Regions from separate parts of the Homo sapiens genome. Here region 2 is linked to region 1. Evidence: fine-mapped QTL for protein levels in blood plasma. Region 1 holds a variant in brackets. A gene starts in the other region. All regions are shown on their reverse strands.

Region 1 (8,959 bases):
TGTGAATATTTGTCAGAATTTATTCTTACATTGCCTATTCTAGTGGTTACCAAAAAAAAAAAAAAAAAAAAAAAAAGCGACACATACGCACAAAAGAAATTATTCTCATAGTTTGCTCTTTAATAAGAAAATGGTTCTCAGTAATGTATTTGCTACTTGACTATTTCATTTTTTAACTTAAAATTTTTTTCATGCCTCAAAAACCCTGCTTATTGCAGAACATTATAAAATAAGTATAAGGAAAAAAAAAGGCTGGGTGCAGTGGCTCACACCTGGAATCCTTGCACTTTGGGAAGCTGAGGCCGGTGGATCGTTTGAGTCCAGGAGTTTGAGATTACCCTGGGCAACACGGGGAAACCCTGTCTCTACAAAAAATACAAAAATTAGTGGGGCATGGTGGTGCATGCCTGCAGCCCCAGCTACTCCTGAGGCTGAGGTGGGAGGATCACCTGAGCCTGGGGAGGTTGAGGCTGCAGTGAGCTGTGATCGCACCACTGCACTCCAACCTGGGTGACTGGAGTGAGACCCTGTCTCAAAAAAAAAAAATAGAAGAACTTCCAGAATAGTTAAAGATAACCACTGTTGACAAATTCGGGTATATCCTAGTCTTTTTTTCTTGGCAAATAAGTCTGTAACAGGGCACTGTGGGCAGGTGTAACTGGGACATCAAAGCTGCTTGCGCAAACCATTCACTCTCTCCCTAACATCTATTTGCATCTGTTGGCAGGCTTGAGAATTCTTTTTTTTTCTTTAATTTAAAAAAATTTTTTTTTAAGAAACAGTGTCTTGCTTTGTCGCCCACACTGAGCGCAATTGTGCGATCATGGCTCACTGCAGCCTTGACCTCCCAGGCTCAAGTGATCCTCCCACCTCAGCCTCCCTAGTAGGTGGGACTACAGGGATGCACCACCATGCATGGCTAATTTTTTAGAATTTTTTGTAGAGTCACGGTCTTCCCATGTTGCCCACATGGGTCTTAAACTCCTGGGATCAAGTGATCCTTCTGCCTCGGCCTCTCAAAGTGCTTGGATTACAGGCGTGAGTCACCATGCCCAGCCACTTGAGAACTTCTTGGTGGGGAGGCCATTCTTTTCCATGTGTGGAAACTTTGGGTGCCTGTGGAGTTCATTCCTTTGGCTCTGACATTAACATGCGCATCAGAGAATTTGGCAGTGGAGAAGTTTCTCCACATGGCTTTATGGGCAGTAGTGATGGTAAAGTGAGAATCAGTAGGAAGATGAATATTGCATGGTATATGTAGGTGACAGACTTAGTGACCATTATGTGACACATCTTTTTTCAGGATACTCAGAAATATTTTGAGAGATGCTTTAAGGGGAACTAGTAAAATAGTATTTAAACCAATCCAGTCTTGTATCAGAAGACTGCAAGAAGGAAAGTATGACATTCACAAGATGGTGAAGCCTGGCATAATTAGATTTCATATAAACTTACAGAAATGGGATCACATTGTATATGTTATTTTTCACTACTTATAAAATATCAACATATATTTGTCTTACTATTTATTGAGCCAGGCATGGTGTCATGCTCCTGGAGTCCCGGCTACTTGGGAGGCTGAGGCAGAAGGATCACTTGAGCCCAGGAGTTTGAGGCTGCAGTGAGCTATGTTCATGCCACTGCACTCCAGCCTGGATGACAAAGTGAGATCCCATCTCAAAAAAAAATTATTAATTAAATAATAATTCATTGTGGGGAAGCACCAGCGTTTAAATGATTTCCTTTTACTAGAACCTTAGGTTGCTGATATATTTTTTGCTATTATAAACAACACTTGAATAAACATTCTTTGTGTGCATATGTTGGGGAGGACAAATAATTTTTTCTTCAACCTCAGAGTTCTTTGCTGAGACACCCTGTAACAAAGGATAGATTGCCGGGCACGGTGGCTCACGCCTGTAATCCTAGAATTTTGGGAGGCTGAGGTGGCCAGATCAGTTGAGGCCAGGAGTTTGAGACCAGCCTGGCCAACATGGAAACCCTGTCTCTACTAAAAATACAAAAATTAGCTGGGCGTGGTGGCACGTGCCTGTAGTCCCAGCTGCTCTGGAGGCTGAGGCACCAGAATCACTTGAACCCAGGAGGCAGAGGTTGCAGTAAGCTGCGATCACACCACTGCACTCCAGCCTGGGTGACAGGGCGAGACTCTCTAAAACAAAGAAAAAAAAACAAAAAAAAGATAGATGAACAAGGAAAAAGCAAATTTATTAATGTGTGTGGCATCACATGGGAGAAAGCTCAATGCAAAGTAACTCAAAGCAGTGGCTCAGAACTCTGGCTTATGTAGCATCTTCAACAAAGAACAATACATTTGTGGAAAAAGGGCAGAACATAGGAAAGAGATTTTAGGCTTCCAAGGATAGGAAACTGGGAAAGTAAATATTTGGGAGGAAACTAATGGAGTAAGGTTTGTTTATAGACTCCTCTGGTGCTGTCTCTGGACTATTAAGTCTGTAGGGTTGTGTATAAAGGAGAATTTGTATCCTACCTTTAGGCAGAAAAGAGGGGAATAGAGGGAGCTTTTCTTCTGTTTGCTACTTCCTAATTGCCTACAGCTCAAAAATAATTTCTTTTTTTCTTTTTTTCTTTTTTTTTTGAGACAGAGTCTCGCTTTGTCGCCCAGGCTGGAGTGCAGTGGCTCAGTCTCAACTCACTGCAACCTCCGCCACCCAGGTTCAGGCAATTCTAGTGCCTCAACCTCCCAAGTAGCTGGGATTACAGGCATGAGCCACCGTGCCTGGCTTCTCCAAAATAATTTCTATGTCAAAAAGGCATATTTTGGAGTGATACGTTCTGGTTTTCTTCACACATTTTAAGGCTATTTACATATTGCCAAATTGCATTTATTAGTAGGTTAGTTGCTGATACGTAACATCTCTGAAGCAGAGCTGCCTGTTTATTATATATATGAAACTGAAACAAGACGCAGTAAGGTAATTGTAAAGAGACTTGTTATACATTATGATTTTTATTACTTTGTGTACTGGGTGTCCCATCAAATTCCACAGATATAACAGCTTAGAGAAGTGGGAGCTAGTGCAGTGCCTAGCCTAAAGTAGAAATTTTGTGGGAACCTAGTCCATTTGGGTGATATATATGCCTTCAAGACAAGAAAGCAATAGAAATGTGCATTGTTAGGACAATGGGTGGTGGTTCCCTCCCTCCAGACTTCTTTACTTCTCCAGTAGCATTCATTAATCTACAATGTACAGCTCAAATATTTGCCTCAACAGGTAAAGCTAAAACCTGTTTTCCTAGTTGAAAATAATTTTATTGAACCTCCCCATGGGAAAACACGTGTTTATTACATGTGCGGCTTTTGTGACTCTTTAACCAGCCCCGCCTATAACCAAATATAGTCATTCCTGTGGGTAAAATGTCACTTCCTAACTCTAAAAAGAAAGGTGAAACTTTGAACATTCATTTAGGCATATTGGCAAGTTTTTCTTTCCCCCCAGTTCTTTTAGCAGTTGGTAAAAATCCTTTCTGAGAGCTAGGCTTTTAAATGGTTAAACAGTAGTTTACTGTGAGGGATAGAATTATTTTTCTTATATTCTAAATTTTCTCCAGTGAGCTTATACTTTTTTCTTAAAATAATAAAACATATTTTGTAGCTATCTTTATATTTAGATACTACTATTCAATTGGATAGTATTGTGCTACTATTCAATTGGAAAAAGTTATTTTTTAAAATTAAATATATGTTTTAGGATCGTGGGAATTTGAGGCTTCTTAAGAATTGAAATAAGCCTTGAAGAAATACGTTTTATTCTCTTCTGACTTTTTTAAATTGGTTGCTTTCGTTCATTTCTGCCTTTTATTTCTGTAGTTGTATTTTGTATATATTCCATTGTCTTATTTTTTTACTCTTCCCCTTTTCATAGGTGTTATTCCATTGTTTTAGAACAGTGTTTAATCATTGTGATATCAGAAATATCATTTATTCATTTAGTCATAGAAGCAGCTGCTAGGTAGAGTCAATGTTGTTAAAACACAGACCAAAGAGTAAATGGTGGAGAAATATATACATGTATATGTTCTTTTTTTTTTTTTTGAGAAGGAGTCTTGCTCTGTTGCCCAGGCTGGAGTGTAGTGGCACAATCTTGGCTCACTGCAACTTCCGCCTCCCAGGCTCAAGCTATTCTCCTGCCTCAGCCTCCCAAGTAGCCAGGATTACAGGAATGCACTACCACACCTGGCTAATTTTTTGTATTTTTAGTAGAGATAGGGTTTCGCCATGTTGGCCAGGCTGATCTCAAACTCCTGACCTCAAGTGATCCACCCACCTCCGCCTCCCAAAGTGCTGGGATTACAGGCGTGAGCTACCGCGCCCGGCCTGTATGTTCTTATTTATACAATCTATTTGGGCTTTAACATTTGGCACTGAATATGGTTTGGGGTGTTTTTGTTTGTTTTTTGTTTTGTTTTGAGACAGGGTCTCACTTTGTCACCCAGGCTTGAGTGCAGTGGAGCAAACAGGGCTCACTGAATCTTGACCTTCCAGGCTCAGTAATCCTCCCACTTCAGCCTCCTGAGTAGCTGGGACTACAGGAGCATACAACCATGCCCAGCTAATTTTTTTTTTCCTTTCTTTTGAGACGGAGTCTTGCTCTTGTTGCCCAAGCTGGAGTGCAATGGCATGATCTCAGCTCACTGCAACCTCCACCTCCCAGGTTCAAGCGATTCTCCTGCCTCAGCCTCCTGAGTAGCTGGGATTATAGGCGCCTGCCACCACACCCGGCTAATTTTTGTATTTTTAGTAGAGATGGGGTTTCGCCATGTTGGCCAGGCTGGTCTCGAACT[C/T]CTGACCTCGTGATCCGCCCACCTCAACCTCCCAAAGTGCTGGGATTACAGGTGTGAGCCACCATGCCCGGCCTAATTTTTGTATTTTTTGTAGAGACAGGGTTTTGCATGTTGCCCAGGCTGGTCTCGAACTCCTGAGCTCAAGCAGTCCACCTGCCTTGGCCTCCCAAAGTGCAGGGATTACAGGCATGAGCTGCCACACCTGGCCCATTTTGAGTACTTAGCATACAATTCTTAGCCTTCTGCTTCTTCCTGATAAAGTTGTAATCTGAGAAATTATCTAGTTTCAGCCTTTAATAACTAAATCTTCTCCATATTTCCCATGTCACATTTTTTTCCTATTGTCACATTGCGGCTTCCTTTTTTTTTTTTTTTTTTTTTTTTTTCTTTTTTTGAGATGGAGTTTTGCTCTGTCGCCCAGGCTGGAGTGCAATGGCGCAATCTCGGCTTACTACAACCTCCACCTCCTGGACTCAAGCAGTTCTCCTGCCTCAGCCTCCCAAGTAGCTGGGATTACAAGCGTGTACCAGCATCCCCAGCTAATTTTTGTTTTTTGTTTTTTTTGAGATGGAGTCTCACACTGTCACCAGGCTGGAGTGTAGTGGTACAATCTCAGCTCACTGCAACCTCCACCTCGCAGGTTCAAGCGATTCTCCTGCCTCAGCCTCCCGAGTAGCTGGGACTACAGGTGCACGCCACCACGCCTGGCTAATTTTTGTACTTTTAGTAGAGACAGGGTTTCACCATGTTGGCCAAAATGGTCTCGATCTCTTGACCTCATGATCCGCCTGCCATGGCCTCCCAAAGTGCTGGGATTATAGGCGTGAGCCACCACGCCTGGCCTAATTTTTGTATTTTTAGTAGAGACAGGGTTTCTGTATGTTGCCGAGGCTGGTCTTGAACTCCTGACCTCAGGTGATCCACCCACCTCAGCCTCCCAAAGTGCTGGGATTACAGGCATGAGCCATTGTGCCTGGCTGCATTGCGGCTATCTGCTGTCTTCTTTCTCGGTGCGTCTGTCTGTCCTCCAGACCTCTTAACTTTTATCCTTGGAATGCTCCAGGACTTAGCCCCTGGATTATTTCCTTTTCTAGACATTCACTCACTTGGTGATCTCATCTGGTCTCATGACTCATTACTTGTATGCTGATGACTGTCTTTTGGGCATTTCCACTGGGATGTCTAACAAGGCACCTCAAATTCAACATCTTCAGAATTTCTGCTTCTCTTGAGATCCTTCCTATAACAGTTAATGGCAGTTCTATCCTTCTGAGACTCATCCTTGGCTTCCCTTTTTCTCACACTGTCCAGTCATCTATCAGCAAGCACTATCTTGAAGATACATCCAAAATTCTACCACTTCTCACTATCCCACTGCCTCCTCCCTGTTCTAGGCCATCATCATCTCGTATGTTAATAGATTATTGCAACAGGTTCTTAACTGTCTGTATTAGTCAGTCTTCACACTGCTAATTTAAGACATACCCAAGACAGGGCAATTTACGAAAGAAAAGGGTTTATTGGACTTACAATTCCACATGTCTGGGGAGGCCTCACAATCATGGCGGAAGGTGAAAGGCATGTCTTACATGGTGGCAGTCAAGAGAAGAGAGCTTGTGCAGGGAAACTCCCCTTTTTAAAACCATGAGATCTCGTGAGACTTGTTTACTATCATGAGAAGAGCGCAGGAAAGGCCCGCCCCCCATAATTCAATCACCTCCCACCAGGTTCCTCCCATGACATATGGGAATTGTGGGAGTTACAATTCAAGATGAAATTTGGGATGGGACACAGCCAAACCATATCACTGTGTTTCTGTTTCTCGTTTTTCAAAACACAACAGATGGAGTGGTTCTGTCAAAATGAGAGTCAGATATCATCTGCATTTTGCTCAGAACTCTTCAGTGGTGTCTGGGCACAGTGGATCACACTTGTAATCCCATTTTAGGAGGCCAAAGCAGGCAGATCACTTGGGCTCAGGAGTTCAAGACCAGCATAGGCAACATGTTGAAATCCTGTCTCTACAAAAAATATAAAACTTAGCTAGGCGTGGTGGCCTGTGCCTATGCCCCAGCTACTCTGGATGCTGAGTTAGGAGATCACTTGAGCCTGGGAGGTTGAGGCTGCAGTGACTGTAATTGAGCCACTGCACTCCAACCTGGGTGACAGAGTGAGACCCTGTCCAAAAAAAAGAAAAGCCCTCTTCAGTGGTTTTCTATTTAATATGTAATAGAAGCTTATTATGACCTATAAGGCCAACATGATCTGAATCCTGTTACTCTTTTGATTTAATCTTTTTCTTTTCTTTTCTGGAGACAAAGTCTTACTCTGTTGCCCAGGCTGGAGTAAAGTGGTGCAATCATGGCTTGCTGCAACCTCAACCCCTTGGGCTCAAGCAATCCTCCCACCTCAGCCTCCTGATTAGCTGGGACCACAGGTGTGTGCCACCACACTTGGCTGATTTTGTTTGTTTTTTATTTTGTAGAGATAGGACCTCATTATGTTGCCAAGGCTGGTCTTGAACTCCTGGCCTCAAGTGATTCTCCCACCTCAGCTTCCCAAAGTGCTGGGATTACAGGCGTGAGCCACCACACCCAGCTTAATCTTTTTCTTATATCCCACCTCACTATACCACCAATCCCAGGTCACTTCACTTCAGCCACATTGGCCTCCATGAACATCCCACAGGCTCCTGAATCAGGAGTTCTCGCTGTTCCTTGTGCCTGAAATGTGCTTCTTTCGGATAATCTCACAACTGACAGCCTCACTTTCTTTACATTTTCACTCCAGAGTGCCTTCTTAGTGAGGCTTCCCTTAGCCCCCTGCTTAAAAGTCATGTATTTCATTTTTAATAGAATCCTTTAAACAAAAGAGAGGATGCTTTCCATTCAGGTTATCTTTATCTAAAAAACGCTAATCTGAAATAACACTATGGGGCACCCTCGCAGAACACAATATGAAAGTATAGGTTGAATATCCCTTATTTGAAATGCTTGGAGCCAGAAGTGTATTCAGTTTCAGATTTTTTCAGATTCATTTACCAGTTGACCATCCCTAACCTGAAAATGTGAAATGTTCCGATAAGCATTTCTTTTGAGCATGATGTCAGCTCTCAAAAAGTTTTGGATTTTGGAGGATTCTAGATTTTTAGAGTAGGAATACTCAGCCTGTAGGAGAATAACAGATCTACATTAGGGAATGATAGAGATCACCCTTGACTCAGCTTGAAAACTGGTAGCTGTGCTTAGGATAATGTAATTACTGTATAGGACCAAAAACTACAGGGTTAGAGCATACCGGTGTATTGTCCACTTTCACTGCTGTTCTGTTTTTGCTTTCCCCAGCGGAAACCTATATAAGTTTATACAAATAATCTTCTGAGGATGGGCCAGCTCTTAGAGCCTCTGTCTCTACCTTTTCATCCTCTTGGTATCCAGCTAAGTTAACAGCTTCATTGTGAATATTCCATTTGGCATTTTATTTGTGAGGCAGGGGAATTGCTTGAAACTGGGAGGCGGAGGTTGCAGTGAGCCAAGATGGTGCCACTGCACTCCAGCCTGGTGACAGAGCAAGACTCCGTCTCAAAATAATAATAATAGAAGAAGAAGAAGAAGAGGAAGAGAAGGGGAAGAAGAAGAGGAGGAGGAGGAAGAGGAGAAAGAAAAAAGAAAAAGAAACTTGAGGCTCAGGGATTATATACCTAAGAGGTGGTACAGTCAAACAGCTATGAGATGGTCTCAGTTCTTAAAAAGTTAATTAGGAGAGACGGGAAACCATTCCTTCAAACTAGAAATGCTATACTAGTCCAGAGAAGGCAGAGGAAAAAGTGGGTGGAGGAAATGGAGATTTTTATGGAAGAGGGATGTAGGTTATAGGTGAATAAATGGAGTTAGTTGTAAGAACATGCCAGACAGGGAAATAACGAGTACCCCAGGAAGACTGAATTTGCATAGTTGGCAAATGCTGCCAGACAAGTTCGCATTCAACTGTTGCATCAGATTCATTTGGAAAGCTTTTAAAAAATATTGTTGGCTCCTGATCCCACCCCGAAGCTGCTCCTGAATCAGATGGTCTTAGGCAGTGCCTTAGAATCTGTGGTGTTGATACTGTCACAGGCTATTCTGATGCATAGCCA
Region 2 (8,817 bases), not on the chromosome of region 1:
TTAAGAAATTTTATTGCTCAGAACTTTCCCTCCCTGGGCAATGGCAAGAGCTTCAGAGACCAGTCCCTTGGAGGGGACCTGTTGAAGCCTTCTTTTTTTTTTTTTTTAAGAAATAATCTTGCTCTGTTGCCCAGGCTGGAGTGCAGTGGCACAATCATAGCTCACTGTAACCTGGCTCAAGCGATCCTCCTGAGTAGCTAGGACTATAGGCATGTCACTGCACCCAGCTAATTTTTTTTTTTTTTTTTTTTTTTTTTTTGCGACATAGTCTCGCTCTGTCACCAGGCTGGAGTGCAGTGGCACGATCTTGGCTCACTGCAACCTCTGCCTCCCGGGTTCAAGCAATTTTCCTGCCTCAGCCTCCTGAGTAGCTGGGACTACAGGCGCGTGTCACCACGCCCAGCTAATTTTTGTATTTTTAGTGGAGACAGGGTTTCACCATGTTGGCTAGGATGGTCTCAATCTCTTGACCTGGTGATCCATCCGCCTTGGCCTCCCAAAGTGCTAGGATTACAGGCGTGAGTCAACCTCACCGGGCATTTTTTTTTTGAGACGAAGTCTTGCTCTTGCTGCCCAAGCTGGAATGTGGTGGCATGATCTCGGCTCACTGCAACCTCCACCTCCTAGGTTCAAGCGATTCTCCACCTTAGCCTCCCCAGCAGCTGGGATTACAGGTGCCCATCAACACACCCGGCTAATTTTTGTATTTTTATTAGAGATGGGGTTTTGCCATGTTGGCCAGGCTGCTCTCGAACTCCTAACCTCAGGTGATCCACCCCCATTGGCCTCCCAAAATACTGGGATTACAGGCATGAGCCACCGTGCCCAGCTGAATTTCTAAATTTTTGATAGAGATCGGGTCTTTCTATGTTGCCCAAGCTGGTCTTGAACTCCTAGCCTAAAGCAGTCTTCCCACCTCGGCCTCCCAGAGTGTTTGGAATACGTGCGTAAGCCACCACATCTGCCCTGGAGCCTCTTGTTTTAGAGACCCTTCCCAGCAGCTCCTGGCATCTAGGTAGTGCAGTGACATCATGGAGTGTTCGGGAGGTGGCCAGTGCCTGAAGCCCACACCGGACCCTCTTCTGCCTTGCAGGTTGCCTGCGGACACGCTGGGCCTCTGTCCTGATGCTGCTGAGCTCCCTGGTGTCTCTCGCTGGTTCTGTCTACCTGGCCTGGATCCTGTTCTTCGTGCTCTATGATTTCTGCATTGTTTGTATCACCACCTATGCTATCAACGTGAGCCTGATGTGGCTCAGTTTCCGGAAGGTCCAAGAACCCCAGGGCAAGGCTAAGAGGCACTGAGCCCTCAACCCAAGCCAGGCTGACCTCATCTGCTTTGCTTTGGCATGTGAGCCTTGCCTAAGGGGGCATATCTGGGTCCCTAGAAGGCCCTAGATGTGGGGCTTCTAGATTACCCCCTCCTCCTGCCATACCCGCACATGACAATGGACCAAATGTGCCACACGCTCGCTCTTTTTTACACCCAGTGCCTCTGACTCTGTCCCCATGGGCTGGTCTCCAAAGCTCTTTCCATTGCCCAGGGAGGGAAGGTTCTGAGCAATAAAGTTTCTTAGATCAATCAGCCAAGTCTGAACCATGTGTCTGCCATGGACTGTGGTGCTGGGCCTCCCTCGGTGTTGCCTTCTCTGGAGCTGGGAAGGGTGAGTCAGAGGGAGAGTGGAGGGCCTGCTGGGAAGGGTGGTTATGGGTAGTCTCATCTCCAGTGTGTGGAGTCAGCAAGGCCTGGGGCACCATTGGCCCCCACCCCCAGGAAACAGGCTGGCAGCTCGCTCCTGCTGCCCACAGGAGCCAGGCCTCCTCTCCTGGGAAGGCTGAGCACACACCTGGAAGGGCAGGCTGCCCTTCTGGTTCTGTAAATGCTTGCTGGGAAGTTCTTCCTTGAGTTTAACTTTAACCCCTCCAGTTGCCTTATCGACCATTCCAAGCCAGTATTGGTAGCCTTGGAGGGTCAGGGCCAGGTTGTGAAGGTTTTTGTTTTGCCTATTATGCCCTGACCACTTACCTACATGCCAAGCACTGTTTAAGAACTTGTGTTGGCAGGGTGCAGTGGCTCACACCTGTAATCCCTGTACTTTGGGAGGCCAAGGCAGGAGGATCACTTGAGGCCAGGAGTTCCAGACCAGCCTGGGCAAAATAGTGAGACCCCTGTCTCTACAAAAAAAAAAAAAAAAAAAAATTAGCCAGGCATGGTGGTGTATGTACCTATAGTCCCAACTAATCGGGAAGCTGGCGGGAAGACTGCTTGAGCCCAGAAGGTTGAGGCTGCAGTGAGCCATGATCACTGCACTCCAGCCTGAGCAACAGAGCAAGACCGTCTCCAAAAAAAAACAAAAAACAAAAAAAAACTTGTGTTAACGTGTTAAACTCGTTTAATCTTTACAGTGATTTATGAGGTGGGTACTATTATTATCCCTATCTTGATGATAGGGACAGAGTGGCTAATTAGTATGCCTGAGATCACACAGCTACTGCAGGAGGCTCTCAGGATTTGAATCCACCTGGTCCATCTGGCTCCAGCATCTATATGCTTTTTTTTTTGTTGGTTTGTTTTTGAGACGGACTTTCGCTCTTGTTGTCCAGGCTGGAGTGCAATGGCACAATTTCGGCTCACCACAACCTCCACCTCCCAGGTTCAAGTGATTCTCCTGCCTCAGCCTCCCGAGTAGCTGGGATTACAGGCATGCGCCACCAGGCCTGGCTAATTTTGTATTTTTAGTAGAGACAGTGTTTCTCTATGTTGGTCAGGCTGGTCTCGCACTCCCGACCTCAGGTGATCTGCCTGCTTTGGCCTCCCAAAGTGCTGGGATTACAGGCGTGAGCCACCATGCCCGGCCAGCATCTATAATATATGCTAAACCTTACCCACAGCTGCCTCTGTCTTGGGGTCAGGGTTCTTGAATGGTCTGGGCCAGCCTGAGTTAGGAGTGGGAAGAGGAAGAGGAGGCACGCGCCAAAGTGTTCTTCCCGCCTGACCGAGTCCTCTGCGCCTATGAGGAAGGTGGGCACCGCTGTCACCCTGTTTCCCAGGAAGCCAGCAGGCCCAGGGAGATACTGGGATTTGCCAAAGGCTCACAGCGAGCAAGCAGCAGTGGGTGCTGGCTCCTCACCACTCAGCCTGGCACACACTGTCTCTGAGCAGACCTGGGAGAAGGCATGTGAAACCCACCTAGCCCTGGCTGGAAGAGAAGTGGGGGAGTGGAAATGAAAAGTGGGGACTGGGAGGAGCTGCCCACGTGCCCTCCATGGTTCCAGGATGGCACTTTCATGCTGGGAGTGAGCTTGCCCTGTGCCAGGCTGTCATTGAGACGTTTTCCATTCAACAACTGTTTCTCAGACAAGGCACAGGCAGGTTAGCTCTCCCAGGCCACTCAAGTAGTAAGGAAACAGATTTAAACCCAGACAATTTGGCTCCACGGCTAAGGCCCAGAGAGGGGTGGTGACAAGCCTAGGGTCACACAGCCACAGCCCCAGAGCTAGGAACTGCTGGCTAGGGCAAGCAGACAGCTGAATCCTAGCCAACTGGAGGTGGAGCAGAGGTGGAGCCAGGGAGACCCAGGTGGCCTCTCTCAGAGTGGAGCACAGGTGGCAGAGTGGCCCGGGGCAGCATGAAGTGGTGCTGGGGCCCAGTGCTGCTCATCGCGGGTGCCACAGTCCTCATGGAGGGTAAGCCGCCATGTGCTGGGGTATGGGTGTGGCCTGGTGGGGGCTCAGGGGCCATCTCTGCCCCAGCAGTCCCTGCTTCTTGGTGGGGGGACCGCCTGTGGGCGACAGTCCACCAGTGGGGATGTAACTCCGTAGGACTCTGTGGGGTGGTATATGTGGCCACCTGTGTCAACATGGATGAGATTTTCTCGGGCCAGCTGCAGTTTGCGTTGGCGGGGCCTGTGGTCTTGTGTGTGTGTGAGGTGCTGCCTGCGTGTGTCCTGTGCCTGCCTCCCCCTCGACTTCCACAATGACGTCAGGCAAACTCTGGGCTCCTCTGGCCTCAGTTTCCCTTTCTTTTCATCCATCCTCTGGGCAGCCTGGCTCAGCTGTCTCATGGGGTGCCTGTGTGCCTGTGAGGGGCGGTGGGCAGGGGCCCTCTCTCTGGCGGGCTCTCAGACAGTTTCTGGGAAGGTGGGGAAGACTGAGTCTCTAGACCAGGGTGAGGTAAGTCTCCATTTCTTGGGGCCCTCCCCACTTGGAAATGATGCAGGCCTCTAATCCTTCCTCTTAGGCCTCTGCTGCTAAGAGGACAATTAAGCTAATGCTCTCTACACACACAGGCCGCCTGGCTGACTCAGTGGCGGGGGCAGGAGTTGGGGGTTCTGAAGCCTGGAGGAGGGCTGGCCTACTCCCAAGCTGAACCCCAAGCCCCAGAGTGCTGAGCACAGCTGAAGGAGAATTAATTACTGAGTGTGCACACTGAATAGGTTCCAATAAAAGCTGTCTCGGCCTCATATAAATATTTTCATTCTGGGAGGGGCTGGTAAGGTAATCAGAGTCACAGGCAAGGACCCTGGGCCCGCCCCCCAGCCCATCCCCTCTCCTCCCCAAAGCTAGGCAGGCCTGGAGTCCCTGCATCTTACCTGTGTCTCTCTCTTCCCAGGTCTTCAAGCCGCTCAGCGTGGTAAGGTCTGGGGACACGGGGCCTAGGTCTTACTTGGGTCTGGGTTGGGACTGGGGTGAGGTCAGGACAGGTATCTGCTGTCAGTGTGACTAACTCCTTTCCACAGCCTGTGGACAGCGTGGCCCCGGCCCCCCCAAGCCTCAGGAGGGCAACACAGTCCCTGGCGAGTGGCCCTGGCAGGCCAGTGTGAGGAGGCAAGGAGCCCACATCTGCAGCGGCTCCCTGGTGGCAGACACCTGGGTCCTCACTGCTGCCCACTGCTTTGAAAAGTAAGTCATGGCTGGGGTCAGGCAGGGTCTCCGGCTCTGGGGAGTGGACAATTTGTCTCAAGCCCCACAAGGCTAGTCCCTGCCTCTAGAGTAATAATAAAGAACCATTTACTGAGAATCTGCCATGTACTGGGTACATATTGTCAAGTTAATTGTAACAACCACCTTTCATGGTAGAAGATTTACAAATCAGAAAACTCAGGTTGCAAGGGAATGACCTCGCTTAAAGTCACAGACTGAGGCCGGGCACAGTAGCTCACGCTTGTAATCCCAGCCCTTTGGGAGGCCACGGAGGGAGGATCGCTTGAGCCCAAGAGTTCAAGACTAGCCTGTGCAACATAGCAAGACCATGTCTCTACAAAAACTGTAAAATTAGCCAGGCATGGTGGTGCACGCCTGTAGTCCCAGCTACTCACGAGGCTGAGGTGGGAGGATCGCTTGAGCCTGGGAGGTCAAGGCTTGTAGTGAGTCATGGTCATGCCACTGCACTGCAGCCTGGGCGACAGGACGAGACCCTACCTCAAAAAGAAAAAGCCGTGGAGTGCTCTCTGCTATCTTCCACCTACCTGTGGGGTCTCCCATGGTGTCACTGTCTACCCTTGCACTCAGCAGCCTGGACCTTGTCCTTCCCCTTCCAGGGCAGCAGCAACAGAACTGAATTCCTGGTCAGTGGTCCTGGGTTCTCTGCAGCGTGAGGGACTCAGCCCTGGGGCCGAAGAGGTGGGGGTGGCTGCCCTGCAGTTGCCCAGGGCCTATAACCACTACAGCCAGGGCTCAGACCTGGCCCTGCTGCAGCTCGCCCACCCCACGACCCACACACCCCTCTGCCTGCCCCAGCCCGCCCATCGCTTCCCCTTTGGAGCCTCCTGCTGGGCCACTGGCTGGGATCAGGACACCAGTGATGGTAAGTGCTGGCCCAGACTGAAGCTCGGAGAGGCACTCTGCTTGCCCAGCGTCACAGTCTCAGCTCCCAACTGTCCTGGCTTCCAGTCTCCCTTGCTTCCCAGATCCCAGACTCTAGCCCCAGCCCCGTCTCTTTCACCAGCTCCTGGGACCCTACGCAATCTGCGCCTGCGTCTCATCAGTCGCCCCACATGTAACTGTATCTACAACCAGCTGCACCAGCGACACCTGTCCAACCCGGCCCGGCCTGGGATGCTATGTGGGGGCCCCCAGCCTGGGGTGCAGGGCCCCTGTCAGGTCTGATAGGGAGAAGAGAAGGAGCAGAAGGGGAGGGGCCTAACCCTGGGCTGGGGGTTGGACTCACAGGACTGGGGGAAAGACCTGCAATCAGAGGGTGTCTGCCATAGCTGGGCTCAGGCATCTGTCCTTGGCTTTGTTGCCTGGCTCCAGGGAGATTCCGGGGGCCCTGTGCTGTGCCTCGAGCCTGACGGACACTGGGTTCAGGCTGGCATCATCAGCTTTGCATCAAGCTGTGCCCAGGAGGACGCTCCTGTGCTGCTGACCAACACAGCTGCTCACAGTTCCTGGCTGCAGGCTCGAGTTCAGGGGGCAGCTTTCCTGGCCCAGAGCCCAGAGACCCCGGAGATGAGTGATGAGGACAGCTGTGTAGGTACGAGTGGGGCATGCTGGGAGTGGGCAGAAGCCACTGTGAAGCAAACCTCAGTTAGGACTAGAGAACTGGCATAGGCATCCACACCGCCGAGCCTAATTAGGGGGCTCTTTCACCCCCTGGGATGGGAACAGCCCTGTTAGGGCTGAGAGGCACAGGCACTTTGGAACTCTACAGGTTTGGAGTTTAGGTGAGAAGAGGAATCTCTGAGACCTGACTTGGGTTTCTGGGGAAGTGGCAGGCTTCCAGCAGGGACCCAGCGAGCCTGCACAGGGTAGGGCTCCCAGTCAGAATTCCGGCATTAAGTGACTGGCATGCAAATTGAATGCAAAGTAATTCCTGGGACGGATATTATGTCTTGATGATAAGAGATGCACTAATGAGTCAGGAATACGGGAGGCAGGCCCATCCTGGAGGGTGCAGACGGGTGGAGCAGGGGAGTGACAAGTAGGGGCATTCCCACGAGGCTGGGACAGGGGTCCCATCAGACCAACAGGGCTAAAAGCTCAGGCCCTGGCTTGCGAATCGCAAGTCTGCCACTTGCCTGTAGTTACAGAGCAAGGAAGTCTCTTAACCTCTCTGGAACTTTGGTTACCTTCAGTAATGAGGGGAACAAAATTCAATTTCAAAAGCTACTGTGAGGATTTGATGGGAAGTGGGAAGTGCTTAGCAAGAAGTCAGATGAGGCACTTATCTGTTTCAGCCTGTGGATCCTTGAGGACAGCAGGTCCCCAGGCAGGAGCACCCTCCCCATGGCCCTGGGAGGCCAGGCTGATGCACCAGGGACAGCTGGCCTGTGGCGGAGCCCTGGTGTCAGAGGAGGCGGTGCTAACTGCTGCCCACTGCTTCATTGGGTGAGTCTTGGATCCCTCTCTGCTGTGCCCCCTGCCCCTGCCGGCAGCCCTGTCACCTGGTGCCGTCCACACTGCCTCTGCACAGGCGCCAGGCCCCAGAGGAATGGAGCGTAGGGCTGGGGACCAGACCGGAGGAGTGGGGCCTGAAGCAGCTCATCCTGCATGGAGCCTACACCCACCCTGAGGGGGGCTACGACATGGCCCTCCTGCTGCTGGCCCAGCCTGTGACACTGGGAGCCAGCCTGCGGCCCCTCTGCCTGCCCTATCCTGACCACCACCTGCCTGATGGGGAGCGTGGCTGGGTTCTGGGACGGGCCCGCCCAGGAGCAGGTAGGTGGGCACAGGGCCAGGGCTGCTGTCCATCCAACCTGCAGGCCGGGGCAGCCAGCTTTCCCTTGCTCCACAGGCATCAGCTCCCTCCAGACAGTGCCCGTGACCCTCCTGGGGCCTAGGGCCTGCAGCCGGCTGCATGCAGCTCCTGGGGGTGATGGCAGCCCTATTCTGCCGGGGATGGTGTGTACCAGTGCTGTGGGTGAGCTGCCCAGCTGTGAGGTGAGCCCCAGGCCCCCACACCTTACCTAACAGGCCCCTGGCATCCCCTCACCCAATAGCTCAAGAACGGACCTTCCAGGCTTGGCCTCTGGACCCACCTCCCACCTGAAACTAAGCCTTTTTGCCAATTAGCCCCCAAACAGCCAGAGGTTCCCTAGCCTGCTCTACCGTCCTGCACAGCTGCCTATAAAAAGTCACCCAGTGTCACCTGACCCCTGACAGGGCCTGTCTGGGGCACCACTGGTGCATGAGGTGAGGGGCACATGGTTCCTGGCCGGGCTGCACAGCTTCGGAGATGCTTGCCAAGGCCCCGCCAGGCCGGCGGTCTTCACCGCGCTCCCTGCCTATGAGGACTGGGTCAGCAGTTTGGACTGGCAGGTCTACTTCGCCGAGGAACCAGAGCCCGAGGCTGAGCCTGGAAGCTGCCTGGCCAACATAAGTATGTGGCCCCGGGGCCTCCTGCCAAACCCTGCCTCTCCAGGACCCTTCTCTCTCCAGTGAGAACGTGCCGTTCTAACCCACTCCAGCTGCCTTGGGTAGGGTGGAGCAACAGGCAGACCCATTTGATTCAGATTCTGGTTCTTTGTCATCGTGTGACTTGGAGCAGGCTGCTCAACCGCTTTGAGCCTCAGTATTCTCATCTGTCATGGCGGCCAAGACAGACCCTGTTCCTTCGAGGAATGGGGAGGGAGGGAGGGACCAAAGCCGTGAGGATGAGGACAACTCCACCCTCCTTCCTTCCCCACAGGCCAACCAACCAGCTGCTGACAGGGGACCTGGCCATTCTCAGGACAAGAGAATGCAGGCAGGCAAATGGCATTACTGCCCCTGTCCTCCCCACCCTGTCATGTGTGATTCCAGGCACCAGGGCAGGCCCAGAAGCCCAGCAGCTGTGGGAAGGAACCTGCCTGGGGCCACAGGTGCCCACTCCCCACCCTG

Direction of the effects. Positions count from the first base shown, and alleles are read on the strand shown. Strength reflects both the effect of a copy and how common the allele is.
In carriers of allele T in region 1, the plasma level of the protein whose gene starts at base 3,493 in region 2 tends to be higher than with C alone (weak association).

The links. PIP is the chance, under the fine-mapping model, that this variant and not a neighbour inherited with it causes the effect. The UK Biobank Pharma Proteomics Project read protein levels with antibody pairs (Olink). The fine-mapping took linkage between variants from a reference panel, not from the people measured, so its PIPs are less certain.
Region 2: PRSS53 starts here. The variant in region 1 is fine-mapped to the plasma level of the PRSS53 protein (UK Biobank, PIP 0.92).

What each region holds. Positions count from the first base shown.
Region 1 is chr4:39,563,395-39,572,353 of GRCh38, reverse strand. The region is part of intron 3 of SMIM14 (small integral membrane protein 14); the gene reads left to right. The region is part of intron 2 of UGDH-AS1 (UGDH antisense RNA 1); the gene reads right to left. Among named protein-coding and RNA genes, the nearest start is that of UGDH-AS1, 40 kb to the right of the region's middle. The variant C/T (reference allele first, on the strand shown) is at 4,825.
Region 2 is chr16:31,083,619-31,092,435 of GRCh38, reverse strand. It overlaps PRSS53 (serine protease 53), which reads left to right and starts at 3,493. Exons shown (of 11, transcript NM_001039503.3): 1 at 3,493-3,684; 2 at 4,610-4,630; 3 at 4,737-4,899; 4 at 5,538-5,803; 5 at 5,945-6,099; 6 at 6,253-6,472; 7 at 7,176-7,326; 8 at 7,412-7,656; 9 at 7,733-7,878; 10 at 8,101-8,317; 11 at 8,627-8,817. The coding sequence starts at 3,627. The coding sequence ends at 8,646. VKORC1 (vitamin K epoxide reductase complex subunit 1) reads left to right here. Exons shown (of 3, transcript NM_024006.6): 3 at 1,094-1,582. The coding sequence ends at 1,302. ZNF646 (zinc finger protein 646) reads right to left here. Exons shown (of 3, transcript NM_014699.4): 3 at 8,240-8,817. RefSeq lists an enhancer at 3,316-3,816.